Linked DNA regions of Homo sapiens. The protein of the gene in region 1 interacts with the protein of each later gene in a biochemical or structural test. Each region holds a gene or a part of one and is shown on either strand. Other genes may lie near its edges.

Region 1 (3,500 bases):
GGAGGCGGAGGTTGTGGTGAGCCAAGATCGTGCCATTGCACTCCAGCCTGGGCAACAAGAGCGAAATTCCATCTCAAGAAACAATAACAAAAAAGCAAAAATTTGCGGGGCGTGGTGGCTCACGCCTGTAATCCCAGCTACTTGGGAGGCTGAGGCAGGAGAATCGCTTGAACCTGGGAGGTGGAGGTTGCAGTGAGCCTCGATCGTGCCATCGCACTCCAGCCTGGGCGACACAGCGAGACTCTGTCTCAAAAAAAAAAAAAAAAAAAAAAGAAAGAGAAAAGGGGTTGGGTGCAGTAGCTCACGCCTATAATCCCAACACTTTGGGAGGCCGAGGCAGACGGATCACAAGGTCAGGAGATCAAGACCATCCTCGCTAACACAGTGAAACCCCGTCTCTACTAAAAACACAAAAAATTAGCCAGGCGTGGTGGCGGGCGCCTGTAGTCCCAGCTACTTGGGAGGCTGAGGCAGGAGAATGGCATGAACCTGGGAGGCGGAGTTTGCAGTGAGCCAAGATTGCGCCACTGCACTCCAGCCTGGGCGACAGAGCGAGACTTTGTCTTGGAAAAAAAAAAAAAAGGGAGGACATGTGGAAACAGACACGCACAGAGAGAAGACGGTGTGAAGAGGCACAGGGGGATGATGGCCGTCTGCAAGCCAAGGAGAGAGGCCGTGAACCAGTCCTCCCTTGCAGCCCCCGAAGGAAGCAGGCCCGCTGACACTTTGGTCATGGACTTTCCAGCCTTCAGGACGGTGAGACAATGACTTTTTGCTGTTTTCAGCCACCTGGTCTGTGGCTCTTTGTTACAGCAACTCGGGCAGAGGAATCCACCCTTACACACATGCAGACTCAAGAAGCATCCGGAATTTGCCCCATCAGTCAACACACTCCCCCCTCCTCCTCCATTATGATTCTTTTCCTTATGCTGATATAACCTAAAGGAAGACTGGGATTCAGTGGCTGCTTCATGGCTTGTTGAACCCCTGCAAGCTTCAGGCCGACCTTGAATGCACAGCCTTCTCTTACTCCACCGTAACGCCCTCCTTGCCTCTGATAAAAGCCACAGTAACTTTTTCGACTTGGAGCAGGGCAGGACCAGGCCTAGGCTGCCCCTGCAGGCAATCGGCTGAGGCACACAGAGCAAGATGCACCAAGCCATGTGGAGAGGGAGTGGGAAGGAGGCCCAGGGCCCGGAGGCCACACCTGGGGCATCTGAGAGAAGCCTCCCACCTGCCCAGCCCTCACCTTGAGGGTCTGGGCCCGAGAGATGAGGTACGGAAGGTCGAAGTTCTGGATGTTGTAACCGGTGATCACGTCGGGGTCCATGATACGGATGAAGGTGGACCAGGCCTGGGGGTGGGAGCACATTGGGTCACCCTGGTGGTTGCCCTGCCTCGGATTCCCCTACTTCCAGAATGTTCTAGAACCCCAGCCACCCCTGAAAATCCTGCAGAACCCAGAGGGGAAGTGCTCAAGCCTAATTGCACAGGGGCCCACCCAGACCCACAGACACCCACCCAGACCCACAGACATGGGCGTCGCAGCACCCAGGAGCTGATGGCTCAGGACGCGGAGGCTGGCGGGGACCCCGGGAAATGGTGTGGGGCGTGGAGCGAGAGCTACCTGCAGCAGGTCCTCCTCCTTCTCGTAGCTCTGCACCTTGGCACCCAGGATGGGGGCACAGGGCCGCAGGGTGAGCGCCAGGCGTAGGAAGGGCTCCGGCTCCCCCCAGCGCAGGCCCAGCGAGCAGATCTGGATGACAGGGTCCCGCTCAGGCTCAGGGAAGATGCCTGCGAGGCAGGAGGATGCAGGGGCCTGACTCCTGCCCCTCACTCCCAACACAGCAGGGAGGCTGCACCTGCCATCTCCCCGGGGCTGTCCCCGCTGCCTGCCGGCCCTACGTGGCTCACCCTGGCTCCTGCTCTGCTCTCACCTCCAGGCCATCTCCACACCCTCTGTGCTCACTCCATCTGGCCACATGGGCTGGGGTGCTCCTGCCCCGGCACCTTCATGCTTGCCATTCCCTCCACCGGACCTGCCTTTCCGACCCCCGACTTGGCACATCAATGAGGCGGGCAGGAGCCCGGGCCCGGGGACAGACCTTTGCGGCCGGCGCACTCGATATCGAAGCTGAGCACGCGCAAGGGCGCAATGCGCTGCCATGGCCCTTCCGGTGGGTGACTGACCACGTCAGACCACAGCACGTCCGCCTCCAGCTGGCACTGCGTAGCCTGTGGGCATGGGTGGGTCAGCGGTGGCAGCAGGGTACCAGCTCCCCACCCAGCCCTGCCCTGGGAAGCCCTGCACCTTCTCCTTCAGCCTCAGGGCGTATTTCCCAGCTGGGAGCTCCAGCCAGTTGCAGCCGACGATGTCCGTGTCCACCATGAACCTGGAGGGGGCTGGGGGTCAGTGGACAGGGGCTGCCCGAGGGTGGGGATAGAGGCCGGAGAAGTGAGGCAGAGGCCGTACCGGATCTCAAAGTCGACGTTGGCCTCGTAGGGCGCGAAGCTGGGCGTGCCCAGGCCTGCCACACGGATGCCCTGTTCCAGGAGACGGCGGGCCGGGGCCACGAGGCGCGGCAGCGCCACGGTGATGCGCAGGAACGGGGAGGGGCCGTGCCCGTGGTACCCAAACATGCCTGTGGATGGAAGAAGCTGGGACCAGCCAATGGCCTCCCGAGGGGACCCTCCAACCCGCTGATCCTGGGGGAGCACTCACTCTCTCGGGAGCACAGTTCCACAGCCAGCACGGCCGGCCCAGTCAGCTCCCTCCCCCCGCGACTGTCCCGGCTGATGGCCAAGTTCAGCTCCCGTTGCAGGTCACCCATGTGCTCGGGCCCGAAACCTGGTGTGGGAGGGATGATCAGAGGTGCAGGGGGCTCCAGTGGCTCAGGGAGGGGCTGGGTAGGGGCCACTCACCAGGGGGCGCTGGGGTGTAGAAGTAGGGAGCGAAGCCGTGGATGTGGCAGCAGACAGAGAACCCCTCATCGGTGACCCCGAAGGCGCGGAGCACAGGCACGGAGCCGCGGGATGGTGGGGGCCCCCCAGGCACAGGCTGCGCTGGGCCTGTGGGGTCACAGGGTAAGACAGCGGCCATGCCTCTCAGGGTCCTCCAAGGTGTGTCTCCACAGCCTCGAAATACCTTGGGGCCTGCAGCCTGGGGCACTCCTGCCCCTGTACCGTTCCCTGTGTCCATTTCAGCCTCCCCCCTGGTTCCCATCTCCAGCCTCATCCCCCAGGATCCATTCTCCACAGCACAACTACAGGGAGGCCCTTCTTTTTTATTACAAGATAAAAACAACTGGCCGTGCACAGTGACTCACACCTGTGATTCCAGTGCTTTGTGAGGCCAAGGCGGGAGGATCGCTAGAGCCCAGGACTTTGAGACCAGCCTGGGCAAAAGAGCGAGACCCAGTCTCAAAAAAAAGAAAAAAAAAAAAAAAAAAAAAAAATATATATATATATATATATATATACACATATACACAAATACACAC
Region 2 (3,500 bases), about 21 Mb from region 1:
GGAAAACAGAGAGAAAAGAGACCGATGATTGAGAAAAGAAGTTCAAAATGCAGCCATGTTCCATGCCACAATGTGTCCAGCTGGAGAACACCTCCCAGAGGCACTCACACTTCAGGTGGAAAAGATCTGCCGTACGCATTTAAAAAATGGCCGGAAAATTCACTGGAACCCACCTTCATAATCATTAATTCCATGGTGAGAATTTCATCTCCTGAACAAGCTCCATCTGTCACATACGCAAACTGGTGCAACTTTGGAGGATAGATTTCCTGAAAGGAAATAAAAGATGGCACTAGCACCAAAGCCAATCTCTAACAGTCTCAATTTATAATGCATCCAAAATGACTTCTCAGTACCCTGGCATGGAAAGAGAGAGGGCGCACTGATGGAATTAACACAGAAGCCACACCAATGGTTGTAAAAAAAAAAAAAAAAAAAAAAAAGAACACAACTCCCACCCACCATTAAATAAATGGATGGAACTTTGACTCATTGTGGGTACTCTTGAAATATCCCCTTTTCAGTACCTTTAACACATTTGAAAGTTGGGCCCATATACCCTTTGATAATCATACACAAATTTTTAATCTTTTCTTTTTTCTTTTAGACAGAATTTCCCTCTGTTGCCCAGGCTGGAGTGCAGTGGTAGGATCTCGACTCACTGCAACCTCGGCCACCTGGGCTCCAGCAATTCTCTTGCCTCAGCCTCCCGAATAGCTGGGATTACAGGCACGTGCCACCACGCCTGGCTAATTTTTTGTATTTTTAGTACAAATGGTATTTCACCATGTCTCAAACTACTGGCCTCAAGTGACCCAGCTGCCTTGGCCTCCCAAAGTGCTGGGATTATAGGCTTGAGCCACCAACCCGGGCCCAAAATTATTATCTTAGTTCAAAGTTCATTTTTTTTTTTGGCTCAATGTAACTACATGAACCTAGGTCTTCCATACCCTCACTACTTTTCTCTTCCTGGTCACTTTCCAGCCTTTTTTTCTTTTTGGCATGTGTCTTAACTTTACAGGGTAGCAAATCAGAAAAATTTAGGATGAGTGCTATAGGCTAAGCGCCAACCTCTTCCCCCAATCTCAGTGGAGCTCGAGAAATAACACACATTATAGAACAAATATTTGAAAATTATTTACCTCAAGTTTGGCTGCAATAAATAAAGATGAAATCCCAATAAGCTGTAAAAGAGTTTTTACAACATTTTCTTGTGTCGCCATATACCGGTCAAAGAAATCTTGTGCCAAGTAAAAGGTCTCCCTGTGAAGTTTATAGACTTCACACACCTGAAAACATATTTAGTAAGTTTTAGCACAAGTAAGTTTTACTTGAGGGAGGGGAAAAAAAAAAAACTTGTAATGACTTTGGTGAAGGAAAATATAAAATGCAAAGTTCCTGAACTCAACAATTGATAGTTTTTTGTTTTTTTGTTTTTTTTTTGAGGTGCCTTATTCTGTCACCCAGTCTGGAAAGTAGTGTTGTGATCTTGGTTCACTGCAACCTCCAACTTCCAGGCTCAAGCGATTCTCTTGCTTCAGCCTCCCGAGTAGCTGGAATTACCAGCACCCGCCACCATGCCCAGCTAATTTTTGTATTTTTAGTAGAAATGGTATTTCACCACGTTGGCCAGGCTGGTTTTGAACTCCCGGCCTCAAGTGATCCACCTGCTTCGGCCTCCCAAAGTGCTGGGATTATAGGGATGAGCCACTGTGCCCAGCCTAACAACTGATAGGTTTTAAATGAGGGGCCCTTCTGGCCTGTCCCACCCTCACCTGCCTAGGATGTGAATCATCCCCTTGCCCGCACATCCCCGTGGAGTAGGCCACCTGCCTGTTAGTCACTCACTAGCACACAGGTCATCAGATGGACTGTCACAGCACAGCAGTGCTGGTGTTCAAGCAAGCAGCCCTTATTTGACTGAATAATGGCCCCACAGGGCAAGAGTAGTGATGCTGGCTATTTGGAAATGCCAAAGAGAAGCCGTGAAGTGCTTTCTTTAAGTGAAAACATGAAAGTAGAGGATTAAAAACATGGCATATCTAGAGCTCAGTACTATCTGTGGCTTCAGGCATCTCCTGCGGGTCTTGGGATGTACCCCCGAGGATGAGGGGTACTTCTGTAGTTACACACTCAACTTCTACATGTTTTCATGAAGCAGGTCTGCCTGAGATGTCCTTCCACTTCAGAAGAAAAGCCCACTTCTCACCCATTCAAGTCTTACAAGGTTGTCTAGGAAGCTTCCCTTAATCAAGAAACTATAAGCTACCGCAGTTCATCCCAGTAAGATATACAACCAATAAAATCTCATCTTTTATGTTTAACCATTATCTATCAAATGTTGTTATACTTGTTCTTTTGATTAACTGTTAAAGAGAAATAAAATAGTGTGGACCAAGAAAAGATTTGAGTTGGGTGCTGTAGCTCACACCTGCAATCCCAGCACTTTGGGAGGCCAAGGCATGGGGATCCCTTGATCCCAGGAGTTGGAGACCAGCCGGGGCAACATAGCAAGACCCCAACTCAACAAAAAATAAAAAATCGGCAGGGAGTAGTGGCTCATGCCTGTAGTCCCAAGGACTGCGGAGGCTGAGGTGGGAGGACTGCTTGAGCCCAGGAATTGGAGCCTGCAGTGAGCCGTGACTGCACCACTACACTCCAGCTTGGGTGACAGAGCAACTCTGTCTCAAAACACAGAAGCCACTCCAATGGTCCAAATATCTTTAAAAATATGCTTAAAAAAAAAATTGAGACAGAGTCTCATGGTCACCTAGGCTGGAGTGCAGTGGCGCTATCACAGCTCACTGCAAGCTCCAACTCCCAGGCTCAAGCAATCCTCCCACTTCAGCCTCCCCAGTAGTTGTGACTACAAGCCTGAGCCACTATACCCTGACAATTTTTTATTTTTTGTTGAAATGGGGTCTCAAGGGCCAGGCGCAGTGGCTCACGCCTGTAATCCCAGCACTTTGGGAGGCCAAGGCGGGCGGATCACCTGAGGTCGGGACTTCAAGACCAGCCTGACCAACATGGAGGAAACCCCGTCTCTACTAAAAATACAAAATTAGCCGGGCGTGGTGGCGTATGCCTGTAATCCCAGCTACTCGGGAGCCTGAGGCAAGAAAATCGCTTGAACCCGGGAGGCAGAGGTTGTGGTGAGCCAAGATCACACCATTGCATGCCAGCCTGGGCAACAAGAGCGAAACTCCGTCTCAAAAAAAAAAAAAAAAGACATGGGGTCTCGCTATGTTGCCCAGGCTAGTCTCTAACTCCTGGGCTCAAGGGATCCTTCTGCCTTGGCCTTCCAAAGTGCTGGGATTACAGACATGAGCCACTGTGCCCAGCCAGGATTTGAACAATATATTTTATTAGAATAAATGGGAATGGTGGAAAAGGGAATGGATTCCAAGAAGTTAAAAAGGAGCAATGTCAGACCTGTTTAAGATAAGCTTGTTCATATATGTTTACAATTTATGACAGTAGCTATAAAACAGGTGATATAT

Evidence for each region. The genes of interacting proteins can lie anywhere in the genome.
Region 2: of the proteins of POLD1 (region 1) and CCNE1, one has a biochemical effect on the other in vitro, tested with the Homo sapiens proteins (one study listed by BioGRID).

Annotation. Positions count from the first base shown.
Region 1 is NC_000019.10:50,401,347-50,404,846, reverse strand, and holds part of POLD1 (DNA polymerase delta catalytic subunit), read right to left. Parts: intron 3,070-3,500; coding exon 2,923-3,069; intron 2,849-2,922; coding exon 2,723-2,848; intron 2,643-2,722; coding exon 2,474-2,642; intron 2,394-2,473; coding exon 2,312-2,393; intron 2,236-2,311; coding exon 2,106-2,235; intron 1,795-2,105; coding exon 1,628-1,794; intron 1,355-1,627; coding exon 1,250-1,354; intron 1-1,249. UniProt on the Homo sapiens protein: As the catalytic component of the trimeric (Pol-delta3 complex) and tetrameric DNA polymerase delta complexes (Pol-delta4 complex), plays a crucial role in high fidelity genome replication, including in lagging strand synthesis, and repair.
Region 2 is NC_000019.10:29,818,491-29,821,990, reverse strand, and holds part of CCNE1 (G1/S-specific cyclin-E1), read right to left. Parts: intron 1,290-3,500; coding exon 1,143-1,289; intron 270-1,142; coding exon 174-269; intron 1-173. UniProt on the Homo sapiens protein: Essential for the control of the cell cycle at the G1/S (start) transition.